Linked DNA regions of Homo sapiens: region 2 is linked to region 1. The links come from fine-mapping of genetic effects on gene expression. Tissue or cell type: subcutaneous fat. Region 1 holds a variant in brackets; the other region holds the start of a gene. All regions are shown on one strand. Distances are between the middles of the regions.

Region 1 (8,213 bases):
AATATTTACATTTGTTTTAATTGAGAATATATTTGTTAAAAAATGAAATTTCCACAACTTTATATATCTAATTGGCTTTTATTATCAATTCGTTTATTGGACAGCATCCCATCTAAAGATTTAGAAAGGTACTGATGAGCTGAGCAGAGGAGATGGGCTTTATAGGCAGAAAAAGGCTGAAGAAAGCAGAAACAAGGAACAAAGAGCAGATTGGTTGCTACAAAGTTACTTTCCTTATAGGAGTAAAACAAAGGGGACTGGGCCCCATCTGATAGGTTGCTATGAATCTCCTTTTTTTTTTTTTTTTGGAAAAGTGGCCCATTTTAAAGTTCAGTTTGATTATGTGACACCTAGCACTAGTGACACCATTCTATGTGGTCTGGTCTGTTGGGCCTACTGTGGGAGCTCACTCCAAAACAATGGCCTCCCATCATTTTAATTTAACATATTTAATCCAGTTTATAAAGCACATAGTATGGCCAGGCATAGTGGCTCACGCCTGTAATCCCAGCACTTTGGAAGGCCGAGGCGGGTGGATCACCTGAGGTCGAGACCAGCCTGACCGACATGGAGAAACCCTGTCTCTACCAAAAATACAAAATTAGCTGGGCATGGTGGCGCATGCCTGTAATTCCAGCTATTCGGGAGGCTGAGGCAGGAGAAACACTTGAGCCTGGGAGGTGGAGGTGGCGGTGAGCCGAGATCGTGCCATTGTATTCCATCCTGGGCAATAAGAGTGAATCCCCATTTAAAAAAAAAACAGGCTGGGCGCCGTGGCTCACACCTGTAATCCCAGCCAAGATAGCGCCACTGTACTCCAGCCTAGTGACAGAGTGAGACTCCATCTCAAAAAAACGAAACAAAACAAAATACACACACACACAATATGGAAAGCAGAAGTTACTATCCCTGTGACAATACCTAAGTTTATTTTTAGGAAATAATATGATTGGTTATATGGAAAAAGACAAAACATTTTAAGGGAACTCAGCATAAATATAGATAAATAAATATCAAGTTTTGATTGACGTATCTGCTTTTGAAAGGATAAAGCAGTTGTACTATGTAAAAGCTATCGATTAACCTCCTTTTCAGATATCTATACAGTGTCATACCTTGCTTAGTGACAGGAATACCTTCTGAGAAATTCGCTAGGCAATTTCATTGTTGTGTGAATATCATAGAGTGTACTTACGCAAACCTGATGGTAGAGCCTGCTACATACCTAGGCTACGTGGTATAGCCTATTGCTCCTAGGCTACAAACCTGTATAACATGTTATGCTACTGAATGTTGTAGGCAGTTGTAATACAATGGTAAGTATTGTGTATCTAAATATATCTAAACAGAGAAGGTAGAATAAAAATACAGTATTATAATCTTACAGGATCATACTGTATATATGATTCAGAGTTGACCTAAATGTAATTATGGAGCACATGACTATCTATACTTAAGAATCCTAACAAAAATCATTGTACTTCTAACCATAGAGGATTAAGGAAAATTTACCTTTTTTATTTCTTCTATTATTTTAGGCTTTTTTTCTGGTTTTAAAATATAATGCTTTTATATATTCTTTACCTGCCCTCCCCTCCCACACTGACACATGTACTAAATCTTCCTACTGTGTGCTTAGTTTTATCTAATTATTTTCATTGACTATGAAAAGGTGTGGGAATGTGAAGAGTCTGAATTAGTTAATCCATTTATTTGATCAACTTCTTACGCAAATTTTTTTCAGGGAGAAGAAGTCAATGCTGGAAGGATTGGGCTAACGCTAGTAGTAGCTGGAATGGTGGGCTCTATTCTTTGTGGCTTATGGCTGGATTATACTAAAACATACAAGTAAGTGAAAGTAAATACATGTATGGTGTATAACCAAAGGTATTTTGATTTTAAAGGACAATTTGCTTTTTATTTCAAGAAATTTAAAACATGTTATTACTTAAAGATACGGATTCTAAACACTAGTAGGTTCTCTTCACTTAACAAGTGTTTCTTTTTTTTTTTTTTTTTTGAGACGGAGTCTCGTTCTGTCGCCCAGGCTAGAGTGCAGTGGCGCAATCTCGGCTCACTGCAACCTCTGTCTCCCGGCTTCACGCCATTTTCCTGCCTCAGCCTCCCGAGTAGCTGGGACTACAGGCACCCGCCACCATGTCCGGCTAATTTTTTTATATTTTTAGTAGAGACGGGGTTTCACCTTGTTAGCCAGGATGGTCTCGATCTCCTGACCTTGTGATCCACCCGCCTCGACCTCCCAAAGTGCTGGGATTACAGGCGTGAGCCACCGCGCCCAGCAACAAGTGTTTCAATACTCTATGTATTGTATTATTTTATTGGTCACATTTATTTCAATTCTGAGAACTTGGATACCTTATGAGCCCCTTCTTTCTAACAGTACTCATACCTACCACTTCCGAAGGAATTATTTCTATTCTAAAAAGAGCCATTTCTGAGAAATATTTGACTTTTGATAGACTTTATCTTGTTCTTTTTTTTTTTTTTTTTTAGGTGGGGTCTCACTCTGTCACCCAGGCTGGAGTGCAGTGGCACCATCTTGGCTCACTGCAACTTCTGCTTTCCAGGCTCAAGTGATTCTCCCACCTCAGCCTCCTGAGTAGCTGTGACCACAGGTGTGCGCCACCACACCCGGCTAATTTTTTGACTTTTTGATAGAGACAGTGTTTCACCATGTTGCCCAGGCTGATTTTGAACTCCTGAGGTCAGGCAATCTGCCCACCTCAGCCTCCCAAAGTGCTGGGATTACAGGCATGAGCCACTGCACCTGGCCTATGTTGTTCTTTTTTTATGTTGTGGGCTTAAATACAAAAACAAAAAAGTAGTTCTTTCCAATCAAAAAATTATTGTTGAGCATAAGGCTTTATTTTGGTAAGAACTTTTTGGCTAAAGTACGCCCAGACTACAGTACCACTTAACTGTAATATAATGCATAATGTGAAAATGCTGGTTTGACACAATGTCTTATGCCTGTAATCCCAGCATTTTGGGAGGCCAAGGCGGGTAGATTGCTTGAGGCCAGGAGTTCGAGACCAGCTTGGGCAACATGGTGAAACGCCATCTCTACTGAAAATACAAAAAATAGTCAAGTGTGGTGGTGGGCACCTGTAATCCCAGCTACTCAGGAGGCTAAGGAAGGAGAATTGCTTGAACCCAGGAGGCAGAGGTTGCAGCGAGCTGAGATAGCGTGCCACTGGTCTCCAGCCTGGGTGACAGAGCAAGACGCTGTCTAAAAAAATAAAAAAAAAAGAATATACTCTGTTAATTGTACATTATATGGAACCACCAAAAGGCTAATACCAAAGAAAATGAATGATACCAACTGGGAGACTAAGAAAGGGGTTTCAGAGGCAGCATATTTTGCTCTGGGAGTGAAAAGAATCACCACATTTTGTAACATGCCAAAACTTACCCCTGTACTTGGAAATGAATGAATGAAACTATTAAGGAATAAATGAATGAAATATGGAACTGTGTCCCGTGTACCTTTCAAGGCTCAAGATATATTTGATATTATTAGTCTAAACGCTACCAAAAGTATCTCTAATCTTGAAATTCTCCATATTCTTCCATAATTTAAGACAGCACTTGCCTTAGCTTCATTATTTTAAAATGATAGCTTAGAGTGAAACCTACTTGATATATAGATGAAGGGAGCATATGTAAAGGATTATATTTCTTAAGTCTTTCATCCGTTATACATTTAGAAAACTTGATAGGCATAGATGTGTGTTCTTTGCCACTGTGGCTTCCTTCTCAGGGTAACTGCCATTCATTCACCAAACTCCTGTTGTGTGCATCTTTCTTAGATGAAAATTATGGCTGGCATTATGTGATCCCTGTTCTTAAGATGTTTGTGGTCTAAATGGAGCAAATAAGGCATTCACATGTGAAAAGTTAAATAATATAACAAACTAAAATAGATGTCATAAGTTTTATAGTGCCAGTATGATAAGGGAATTTGGAAGAAAGAGAGACTCTTATAAACTGGTGTCGTTACAGAAGGCATTTGGAAGAGGTAGAATTTGATCTGAATCTTGAAATGTGAATAGGGAACTATCCCATTTGGTGGCATAAAAATGATTTTATTCCTATAAAAGGATCCTATCTGAGCATTCGATATGGTGTGGTTTTCTGGTGCTGCTGAATCTTAAATTAAAAATGCTTTAAAATTTGTGCTTTGGTGGATACATATTTCCATGGACAAGAAGGGGTGAACTTTGAAAAACAAAGATTCATTACTGAACAGGTAAGAGTGATGATTTTTGTATTCCTAGGAGAATCAGACAAAATACTAACAGCTTTGTTGTTTTTGTTTTAGACAGACTACTCTGATAGTTTATATTTTGTCTTTTATTGGAATGGTTATCTTTACTTTCACATTGGACCTTAGATA[T/C]ATTATCATCGTGTTTGTTACTGGAGGGGTGCTTGGGTAAGTATCAGATGTGTTTAGGAGGAATGATAGCATGCTGTTATAATTCTGAAGTATTATTACTCTGGTCTTTAATTTTTTCAGTTCATCCAAAGTTTCTTCAATATTTTAAACTTTAAAGGATTCATTCTATGCATATAAACATGTAATTCTTAAGAACTATTAAAAATTATTTAAAATTGGTTTTTGGTATACCATAGGTAAAAAATGGATGAGCCTTACTTAATCTGTGTAACTTTATTTGGTTACAATCAACTTATAAAACTAGAAGTAAATTTTTCTCAGAAAAAAATGTGTATTTGTTGCTTCCAGTTCTGTAACCTTGAGCTGATTGGTCAATGATAATAGTTCCTTACTTTGACATAGCAACTTCAAAATATTCACTTATTTGGTCATTAGAATAAGCCCGAGAGGCAGAATGATTGCATCAGTATGTGATTGTGACTTTCTGGTAGTTCTTTCTGTAATTCTGGATTTATTTTCCTAGCTTCTTCATGACTGGTTACCTCCCTTTGGGTTTTGAATTTGCTGTTGAAATCACTTACCCTGAATCTGAAGGTACTTCATCTGGTCTTCTTAATGCTTCTGCACAGGTAAACCTCTGATTTCTCTAAACCTGAGATGATTATTATACCAGATATTCTAGTGAGTAATGAGTTTGACCATGGTTTTATTTGTTGTTGTTGTTGTTTTGTTTTTTGGAGACAGAGTCTTGCTCAGCCATCCAAGCTGGAGTGCAGTAGTGCAGTCATGGCTAACTATAGCCTCAAACTCCTAGGCTCAAGCAATCCTCCCCCCTCTGCCTCCAGAGTTTTTGGGACTGCAGGTGCACACCAGCATGCCCAGCTAAATTTTTTTTGTTATTTTTTGTAGAGATGGTGTTTTGCCATGTTGTCCAGGCTGGTCTCGGACTCCTGGGCTCAAGCAATTCGCCTACCTCAACTCCCAAAGTGCTAGGATTACAGTGGGTGTGAGCCACTGCACCCAGCCTGACCGTGGTTTTTGTTTTAACAATTCAACTTTTCAATGAATGTTTCTAGAAACCAAATCATATAACCAAAATAAGAAAAGTTCTGGTGAAAACTTTATACTTGCTTTAAATAATTTAACTTAATAACGAATGATTTTTCTTATTGTATTTTAGATATTTGGAATTTTGTTCACATTGGCTCAAGGAAAGCTCACATCAGACTATGGTCCTAAGGCAGGGAACATTTTTCTCTGTGTCTGGATGTTTATAGGCATCATATTAACAGGTAAATTAGGGCGTTTGCCTGGCAAAAGGACTTGTGTCATGTGTTAATTTTCATATATATTGCTTCTCAATAGCTTGACAGAACTCAAGGGGAAAAAAATGAGATAAAAAGCAGGACATTATTTGTTTTCTTCTAAAGACATGAATCTCTTACTTCATTTTGCAGATTTCAAATTCAATACAGTTACTCTGCATAGCAAGCAAAACTGTTATAATAAGAGTAGTAAAGGCTGGGTGTGTTGGCTCATGCCTGTAATCCCAGCACTTTGGGAGGCAGAGGCGGGCAGATTACTTGAGGTGAGGAGTTTGAGACCAGCCTAGCCAACATGGCGAAACCCCGTCTCTACTAAAATTAGCCAGTTGTGGTGGCGCACACGTGTAGCCCCAGCTACTTGGGAGGCTGAGGCAGGAAAATTGCTTGAACCCAGGAGACAGAGGTTGCAGTGAGCCAAGATCACACGAGTGCACTCTAGCTTGGGCAACAGCGAGACTCTGTCTCAAAAAAAAAAAAAAAAAAGAGTAGTAAAGACCTGGAGTTGGGAAGACCTGGCCTCAAATTCCGATTCTGTTGCTCAGTGGGAGTGTGACTTTAGACCCGTTGCTTAACCTCTCAAATCCTCCTTTCCTTATTTATATAATAGAGTGTTAAAGCCTGCTTTATAGGGTTACTGTGAGGATTAATTGAAATGGTTCATGAAAAGTTCCTAGTGTCTGGCACCTGGGACGTGCCTAACATGTGTTACTATTGTTATAATGTGGTAGAGATGGTAAGCAGTCAAGTGGTAGTGGTGGAAATAGTATGTGGAATCCTTAGCTAGTGCTTATACTTCTTAGGTATAGTCATCATAGACATGGGCAGGAAAGAAAATAGTGCTCAATCTCCAGAGAAAGAGAATGTCAGAGAATTTTTATCCATAGTTTGCCCATGCACATGGGTGTACAATAGATTTGGAAGCAGAACTTTTTCCAGGTGCATACTTTTAAAATGTCATCATTCCCTAAACATTATAGTATAACAGCTATTTACATTGTATTAGGTATTAGTAATCTAGAGATGGTTTAAGTACATAGGAGGATGTGTGTACGTTATATGTAAATACTTCCCAGGGGCGTCCAATCTTTTGGCTTCTCTGGACCACATTGGAACAAGAAATATCTTGGGCCACACATGAAATACTCTAATACTAATGATAGCTAATGAGCTAAAAAAAAAAAATTGCAAAAAATCTCATAATGTTTTTTAAAAATTTGTGAGTTTGTGTTAGGCCACATTCAAAACTGTCCTGGGCCACATATGGGCTGCAGACCACAGGTTGAACAAGCTTATACTACACCATTTCATATAAAGGCCTTGAGCATTCGTGGATTTTGGTATCTGAGGTGGGGTCTTGGAATCAATCCCCCGCAGATACCAAGGGAGGTTGTGCTTCGTTGATCTGGTTATAACTTAGTTGGAGGATCTGGTTATAACTTAGTTGGAGAATCTATCAGAAGGATGTGAATCAGAATTTCTTCTACTGTTTGTGGAATACCTGATCATTCTTTGTGAAACCTTCAATATGAAATCTCACCAGTGATAGACATTTTGGATATACACAACTACCTAAGGTCGCTCACTCAATTGTATGAATGATAGGAACCTGAGCATTCATTCACGAAGCTAAAAGAAAGTGAATGCACTCTGTTTCCTCAAAGAAAAACATCTTATCACAGGGAGTTTTTCCCCCTGTCCAGTTAGTAAAATAAAACATACAAAACTGTGAAATATGTAATACATTAACTGCTTTAACTATTGTTCTTTCATAAGTAATTCCATGTTGGTTCTTAATTCCTAGGCAAGTACTATATCTTATCTAAGATTATTACTATTGGCTGGACGTGGTGGCTCATACTTGTATTCCTAGCACTTTGGGAGGCTGATACAGGTGGATCATTTGATGTCAGGAGTTCAAGACCAGCCTGACCAACATAGTGAAACCGTGTCTCTACTAAAAATACAAAAAACTTTAGCCAGTTTTATGGGCACACACCTGTAATCTCAGCTACTTGGGAGGCTGAGGCAGAAGAATTGCTTGAATCTGGGAGGCTGAGGCAGAAGAATTGCTTGAATCCGGGAGGCGGAGGTTGCAGTGAGTGGTGAAGATCACACCACCACTCCAGCCTGGGTGACAAAGTGAGACTCCGTCTCAAAAAAAAAAACAGTATTATTGTTATACCAAAGAAGGGAGCAGTTTTGTAATCCTCCTTCAAATTACTTTTACAAGAGATTCATGAATACTAATTCAAACAAATCAAGTCTAGAAAATTAAGAAGTGAAAATAGATCTTTAAAATTAGTTTTACATTGATGCTTTTACCATCTCAAATGGTATTCCCTGAGGCACAACAATATTGAAATCAGGGCCCTGATTAATACCCCCAAATTATTACCCCTACAGTGGCCTCCAGGTGTTTAAGCAAAAGGAAGAGTAGTAAATCTCTCCTCTTAAATCAGAAGCTAAAAATG
Region 2 (8,000 bases), 30 kb before region 1:
CCACCTCCCCATGAAACATCATGGATTGCACATCCAATAGCATTGTTCTGGTTTGCATCTTAACCTCTGAGGCTCGTAAACTGTGGCAAACCTTTGTTCAGGGACAGCTACATCACTCCTATTAGCATCTTGGACCTTGGCTCCTGGATGCTGTCCAGATCTCATATTGCTGAAGTGTTACTTATTCAAATCTCTCTGACTTGGCATTCCACACCCATAAAGTAGCTCAATCTCATCTTGACTCCCAGCCAAACGATGCTCCCAGTAGTATCTTTTTTGACAGAGATTAAGGTTCATTTTACGTTATACATCCAAACATTTGATATAAATAATGACTCATGTTTAAACTGGTTAATAAATATCTACCACTGAAGCCAGAGAAAGAAGACAAGATTAAGAAATTAGAATGGTGGCCGGGCACGGTGGCTCATGCCTGTAACCCCAGCACTTTGGGAGGCTGAGGTAGGTGGATCACCTGAGGTCAGGAGTTCGAGACCAGCCTGACCGACATGGAGAAACCCTGTCTCTACTAAAAATACAAAAATTACCCGGGTGTGGGCACCTGTAATCTCAGTTACTTGGGAGGCTGAGGCAGGAGAATCACTTGAACCCGGGAGGCAGAAGTTGCAGTCAGCTGAGATTTCATCATTGCACTCCAGCCTGGACTCCAAGGGCAAAGCTCTGTGTCAAAAAAAGAAAAAGGAAAAGAGAAAGAAATAGATTTCACTCCCTCCTTCCCTTCCTTCTGGAAGTTTGCAAGACTTTTTTTGTTTTTGTTTTTGTTTTTGTTTTTTTCTGAGACGGAGTCTCGCTCTATCGCCCAGGCTGGAGTGCAGTGGCGCGATCTCGGCTCACTGCAAGCTCCACCTCCTGGGTTTACGCTATTCTCCTGCCTCAGCCTCTCGAGTAGCTGGGACTACAGGCGCCCACCACCATGCCCGGCTAATATTTTGTATTTTTAGTAGAGATGGGCTTCACCGTGTTAGCCAGGATGGTCTTGATCTCCTGACCTCGTGATCCACCCGCCTCGGCCTCCTAAAGTGCTGGGATTACAGGCGTAAGCCACTGCACCTGGCCAAGATTTTTTTTTTTTAAGAAACAGATTTCACGTGGTGGTGGGCGCCTTAATCCCAGCTACTTGAGAGGCTGAGGAGGGAGAATCGCTTGAACCCCGGAAACAGAGGTTGCAGTGAGCCGAGATCGCATCACTGCACTCCAGCCTGGGTGACAAGAGCGAAACTCCGTCTCAAAAAAAAAAAAAAAATAATAATAATAATTTAAAAAAAGATTTCCTTCCTTCTCTCCTCCCTCCTTTTTTCCTTCCTTCCTTTCTTTTTCTCTCTTTCTTTCTTTCTCTCTCTCTTCTTTCTTTGTCTCTTTCCTTTCTTTTCTTTCTAATTTGGCACACAAACACTTTATTTAAATGCATATCTCAATTCCTGTGCGGCTGGCAAATAAAATAAAGGAGCAGATCATGGCACAGCATTCTCATGGACCAAGTGGTCGAACCCAACATCCAAGACCCAGTGAGCAGCCAAGCTCAGTGCAACCTCCAGGCCTCTCGCTCTGACTCCAACAGGGTGAGCACATAGCCCTTGCGCATGGGGTCTTTTACACTGTGGATGATGGAGTGGCTTGTGTCTTCCATAAATTCCCGCATGCACTGTCCCTGAGAGCTGGTTCTGCCCAGGACCTTGGTGACCCTGGCTAGCTAGATAGGCTGCACATGGCTGGTGTCTGTGATGGCGATGCAGCAGCAGTTGGGCAGAGAGAAGAAATAGATTTCTTTACAAAGCAAGTAATTATTTAAAATATTCACGGTAATTCAGTATTCATTAGCTGTACTCAGTAAATATTTATTGAACAGCTACTATGTGCTAGGTACTCGCACAAAGTACACTGGTTACAAATTCTTGAAAAATAGTAGCGGTAGCAAAAAGCAACAAAACTTTCAGCCCTGCCCTTATGGAACTCACATTCTAGTGGGCAGGGAGAAAATAACCAGAAAAAGGCCCAGCACAATGGCTCATGCCTGTAATCCTAGCACTTTGGGAGGCCGAAGTGAGCTGATCAGTTGAGACCAGTCTGAGCAATGTGGCAAAACCCCATCTCTACAAAAAATACAAAAAGTACTCAGGCTTGGTGGTCAGCCGAGAGAGAGAGAGAGAAGGAAAGAAAGAGAGAGAGAAAGAAAGAAAAGAAAGAAAGAGGCCAGGCTCGGTGGCTCAGGCCTGTAATCCCAGCACTTTGCGAGGCTGAGGCGGGCGGATCACGAGGTCAGGAGTTCAAGACCAGCCTGGCCAATATGGTGAAACCCTGTCTCCACTAAAGAAAAATACAAAAATTAGCCAGGCATGATGGCGCGGGCCTGTAGTTCCAGTTACTCGGGAGGCTGAGGCAGAAGAATCGCTTGAACCTGGGAGGTGGAGGTTGCAGTGAGCCGAGATCGCGCCACTGCACTCCAGCCTGGGTGACAGAGCAAGACTGTCAAAAAAAAAAAGAAAGAAAGAAAATAACCAGAAAAAAAAAGTAAAAATATAGGACATTTTAGGTGAAGGTAAGCACTAGGAAAGAAAGAAAAAAAAAAGCAGGGAAGGGATGTTGGCCGGGGCGGGCGGAGGGGGGGATTTATACAGTTTGGCCAAGGAAGACATTATAATAATGCACTTATTCCTTAGTTTAGAACATGTAGCATTTCACCTGTACCGAGAGATGCCTGATATATTTCATACATGACCAAAATAATAATGTAAGAGGCAATAAAAAAGTGCAGGGTTTTAGGGTTCTAGATATCAGCACATTTTAAGATTAAATGCATGGTAAGAACTTTTGTACTATATACACCTAGTTTGAACTTAAATTTAATAACAAACTCTTTGGAGTCTCTCTCTCTCTCTTTTTTTTTTTTTCCCAAACATAGCTTCCCAAGGAGCAGAAGGGCTGAATTTTCTCTAGTTCCAGGAAGACCGCAAGGCTACTGTGCTCTGGATGTCTCGTTTTTATTTTTTTATTTTTTTATTCTCCAGATCTCAAGACGGTGTCTGGCACATACCATTCAATACAAGTTTGGTACCTGGAACCCACTGAATATGCATGTCCAGTAACTATTAACTACATGTGTTGGTGCAAGGGAGAAGGTCGAGCAACCGGATCTGCTCCATCATAGCCCGTCTCAGTCGCTTCATTCAAGTCAGCGGGGTGAGGTTGAGGGGATTCCAACTTCACAAGGGCAGATTTCTCATGGACTCTCTTTCTCTGGTTGTACTGGAACACTTTCTGGCGTTATTCCTCTGCTGGGACAGCATGAACTTATGAAACGTGGTCCTGTCTGCCCTAAAGCCAGGGTCTCACCGACAAGGACAGCGATGCTGGGGCGAGAAATAAAGTTCGTCCTGGGCCTGCGTACGGTACAGCGCCCTTGGGAAGCCCTTGTGGAGTTAAGGGTGATGCCCACTTCTTTGTCTCCCTCATTCTGTTTCGGTGGCTCTCTCGTTCCCAGTTCCAAGCTGCCCACTTGTTAGAGGAGCCACTGCTTACCAGGCATCTGGTTTAATAAAACATGGCTAGAGCGACTGCATGTTAAAGTGAGTAACTAGGCACTCACAAGGCACCTATAAGGTTAATGCTAAAGGTCTGAAAATAGCCGCATTCTAAGCTGACCAACAATTATAATTACACAATATTTATGGCCATACAGGACATCTCCCACCAAGTCTGCGGAATTGTCCAGATGTCCTGAGTTTTTTTTTTTTTTTTAGACAAGGTCTCACTTTGTCGCCCAGGCTAGGCTGGAGGGCAGTGTGGTGCGATCTCAGCTCACTGCAACCTCCGCCTCCCAGGTTCAAGTAGTTCTCCTGCCTCAGCCTCCTGAGTAGCTGGGACTACAGGCATGCACCACCACGCCTGGCTACTGGCTTTTTTTTTTTTTTTTTTTTTTTTAAATAGATGGCATCTCAGTATGTTGCCCAGGCTGGTCTCGAACTCCTGGGCTCAAGGGAGACTCCTGTCCGGCCTCCCACAGTGCTGGGATTACAGACGTGGCCACCGAGCCCGGCCCAGCCCTCTACTCAGAGATAACGTCAATGCGCAGGCTTAGGTTGAAGGATTAATGGTCATTAGTGCACCAACAGCCCCTACCTTTAGTGGGCACATCAGCACATTCCACGATTAATCACAGCTCCTCACAGCTGCCTCTAAGTAGTGACACTACCGAAGGACGGGAGTTCCTCCTCCTGCAGTCTGAGGACTTGCACTCTCTAACGGAGTAGATTCCAATAAACTTGCTTCCTTCACTGCGCTCTGTGACTCGCCTCCAATTCTTCCCTGAAGTAGACCCAAGAACCCTCTCTTGGGGTCTGGATCGAGACCCCTTTTTCCAGCAACACAACCCGCGGGGCCGCCTCCCGCCCACCCTCAGGTGCAGGAGACCCCGGGCCATGCATCCTTCCGGGCAGGAAAATGTCAGCCAGCGCTCGCCGGCCGCTTTCCTCCCCCGCCTCCCGAAGTTCTCGCCCGGTAGCTCCCCGACTGGCTCTCGCGCCGGACAAAGGCGCACGCTGATTGGCCGGAGGGCCGTAGTCATGCAGGACGCGCGACTCTAGGGGCGGGACCAGACAAGGGGTGACTGCCGCGCGGCGCGGGGGAGGAGACCTTCATCTGTTCACGCGGTAGCGCGGATTGCGGTTCGCGGCGCGCGCCACCGGGGAAGGAGCGGTGGGCCGAGGGGTTGGAGGTGGGGCCCCAGGAGGACCTCGGGCTGTGGGCCGGGAGAGCGGAGTCGGGGAGTGGGGCGGGGGAGCGAGGTGGCGCCGGGGAGCCTGGGATATGGCGCGGCCAGACGATGAGGAGGGGGCGGCGGTGGCGCCCGGACACCCGCTCGCGAAAGGATACCTCCCGTTGCCGAGGGGCGCGCCCGTTGGGAAGGAGAGCGTGGAGCTGCAGAACGGGCCCAAAGCGGGCACCTTCCCGGTGAATGGGGCCCCCCGGGACAGCCTCGCTGCCGCCTCGGGAGTTCTGGGCGGGCCTCAGACTCCACTGGCCCCAGAAGAGGAGACCCAGGCCCGGCTGCTGCCTGCGGGCGCGGGAGCTGAGACCCCGGGGGCCGAGAGCAGCCCGCTGCCCCTTACGGCGCTCTCCCCGCGGCGCTTCGTGGTGCTCCTGATCTTCAGCCTGTACTCGCTGGTCAACGCCTTTCAGTGGATCCAGTACAGCATCATTAGCAACGTCTTCGAGGGCTTCTACGGTGTCACCTTGCTGCACATCGACTGGCTGTCCATGGTGTACATGCTGGCCTACGTGCCCCTCATCTTCCCGGCCACCTGGCTGCTGGACACCAGAGGCCTGCGGCTCACCGCCCTGCTGGGCTCCGGCCTCAACTGCCTGGGTGCCTGGATCAAGTGCGGCAGTGTGCAGCAGCATCTCTTCTGGGTCACCATGTTGGGCCAGTGCTTGTGCTCGGTGGCCCAGGTGTTCATCCTGGGCTTGCCCTCCCGCATCGCCTCAGTGTGGTTTGGGCCCAAAGAGGTGTCCACAGCTTGTGCCACCGCCGTGCTGGGCAATCAGGTAAGTACTGGAGTGGTAGGTGAAAGTCAGATCCTTAAAAGACCGGAAAAAGTCATAGGCCGTGAGAACTATGGCCTGTATGGATGAACTGCCCCAGGAGGTATTTGTCTATAAAAGAGGAGATGAAGCCGTTGAATAGGAGGCCGTCTTGGATTGAAGTGGGCTATAAATTTCTTTGTAAGGACAAAATTTTCCAAACGACCTTGTCATCTTGCTTTGAAAATTACCTATAAAATAATTAACTGGGCCGGGCGCGGTGGCACACACCTGTAATCCCAGCACTTTGGGAGGCCGAGGTGGGTGGATCACTTCAAGTCAGGAGTTCCAGACCAGCCTGGGCAACATGGGGAAACCCCGTCTCTGTTAAAAATACAGAAATTAGCCAGGCCTGCTTGCGGGTATCTGTAGTCCCAGCAACTCAGGAGGCTGAGGCAGGAGAATCTCTTGAACCCGGGAGGTGGAGGTTGCAGTGAGCGGAGATTGCACCTTTGCACTCCAGCTTGGGTGACAGAGTGAGACTCTGTCTCAAATAATAATAATAAACTGTAACCATAATAATAATAATAATAATTAACTGTATTGGCTTGTGTATGCCTAACATGGAAAATTTGTCAATGCAGTAACGAACAAGACTTGGGGTATTATTTTTGTCACCAGTGTATTTGTGAAAGGAAGGTATTGGGTTCTGGGAAGATTGTTTCCATTTTGAGAGGTCATTGTGAACAGCTCCCTTTTAATTTCATATATTAGCAGTCAGCACAGTTCCTGGCACATAAGGGACACATAAATGACTGCTAACCAAAAGTTCTGGGCTGGGCGTGGTGGCTCACGCCTGTAATCTCAGCACTTTGGGAGGCTGAGGCAGGCGGATCACTTGAGGCCAGGAGTCTGAGACCAGCCTGGCCAACATGGCAAAACCAAATACACAAAAATTAGTGGGGCATGGTGTGGTGCATGCCTGTAATTCCAGCTACTCAGGTGGCCAAGGCATGAGAATCTACATGCTTATTGCTTTATAGTCATTTCCCTTATCTAAAAGTACAGAAGATGGAGTAGGTTGAACTATAGTTGTTTGTCCAAAATAATTTATGACTGATACTTGAGTTGGTTGCATCTGCAGGTTTGGACAGAAGCTATTATAAAGTTTTTTGTGTGTGTGGTTTTTTTTTTTTTTTTTTGTAGAAATGGGGTTTCTCCATGTTGCTCATGCTTGTCTCGAACTGCTGAGCTCAAGCTCTCTGCCCACCTCTGCCTCCCGAAGTGCTGGGATTACAGGTGTGAACCACCACGCCCGGCCATGATTACATTTTCTTTGTCACACATCTCTCAGTTTAAATTCATTTTTAAATATTCAGTAGCATTTCTTGATCCCATTTAGAGTTGCCCAGTCACTCTCTTTACATTATTTTACTTTAATTCTCCTTATAGCACTCATCCCTGTCTCATATGTTATTGTTTACATGTTCATATGTTACTTACCTATTACTTTTCTCTTATCCCCACCATTAGATTGTAAGTTTCATGAAAATAGGAATGTGGTCTGAATGTACACAGCTGTATCACCAGCATTTATTACTCTCCATAAAACCATGTTGAATAAATAAAGGAGCTTCAGACTCATACAGATACTGGCCAGCTGGATAGTCTACTTGGATATCTCATGGGAACACACCACTCAAAATTGCTTTCTCCTTGCTCATTTCCCTTTATCTCTAATGCCACTGTCTTGGTTTGGGCCACCCACAGCTCTCACCTAGAGCTTGCTAACTGTCCTCCCTATCTGTAGCCCTTGCTGTCTTCCCTCTGTTCTCGCATTCATCCAGCGTGGTCTTTTACAATGTGCAAATCTGTTCCGGGCACATCCTTACCCCCTGCAGTGGCTTCCATTGTCCTTAGGATAAAATTCAAACACTCTAGTGTGACATATGGGACCCTCCAGATCTGCCTCCTGCCAGCCCTTCCACTTTATCTGTATGCACAACCCCTGTCCCCACAGACATATGCTTTCTCTGCTCTGTGCAGAACTATGCCTACTTATAGTTTCTCACAAGGTCGTGCCCTTTCCCTCCTGGCCTTGTATGTAATGTCCTGTTGGCTTGGAATATTTCTTCACTTGACTAACTCCAATTTCTTATTCAGATCTTTGCTCCTCCAGGAACTTTTTCTGAACCCCATTTCTTTTCATTCTTTTTGATAGCTGAATAATATTTCTATATAAGGTGCTCCCCCAAAGTACTCTCTTAGCTACCATGATCATATGTCCCAGTTTGCTTGGGATAGTCCAGGTGGTACACCTGTTGTCTGGTATGATTACTAATGAAGTCCCTTTCATTCTGAAGAGTATTCTAGATGGATAGTAAATTACGTGGTCTCCCCAGTCTTGGCACTGTTTACGTCTCAATCACAGTACTGTATTACCACCCTCTCTTGTAATTACC

What was found. PIP is the estimated chance that this variant, and not a neighbour inherited with it, causes the effect.
Region 2: FLVCR1 starts here. The variant in region 1 is fine-mapped to the expression of FLVCR1 in subcutaneous fat (GTEx, PIP 0.91).

Annotation. Positions count from the first base shown.
Region 1 is chr1:212,883,549-212,891,761 of GRCh38, forward strand. FLVCR1 (FLVCR choline and heme transporter 1) reads left to right here. Exons shown (of 10, transcript NM_014053.4): 5 at 1,745-1,848; 6 at 4,343-4,453; 7 at 4,941-5,046; 8 at 5,598-5,709. Among named protein-coding and RNA genes, the nearest start is that of FLVCR1, 29 kb to the left of the region's middle. The variant T/C (reference allele first, on the strand shown) is at 4,418.
Region 2 is chr1:212,853,629-212,861,628 of GRCh38, forward strand. It overlaps FLVCR1 (FLVCR choline and heme transporter 1), which reads left to right and starts at 4,647. Exons shown (of 10, transcript NM_014053.4): 1 at 4,647-5,562. The coding sequence starts at 4,825. FLVCR1-DT (FLVCR1 divergent transcript) reads right to left here and starts at 4,510. Exons shown (of 2, transcript NR_027286.1): 1 at 4,138-4,510; 2 at 2,976-3,290. It also overlaps the pseudogene RPS28P2. RefSeq lists silencers at 4,748-4,807, 4,888-5,097.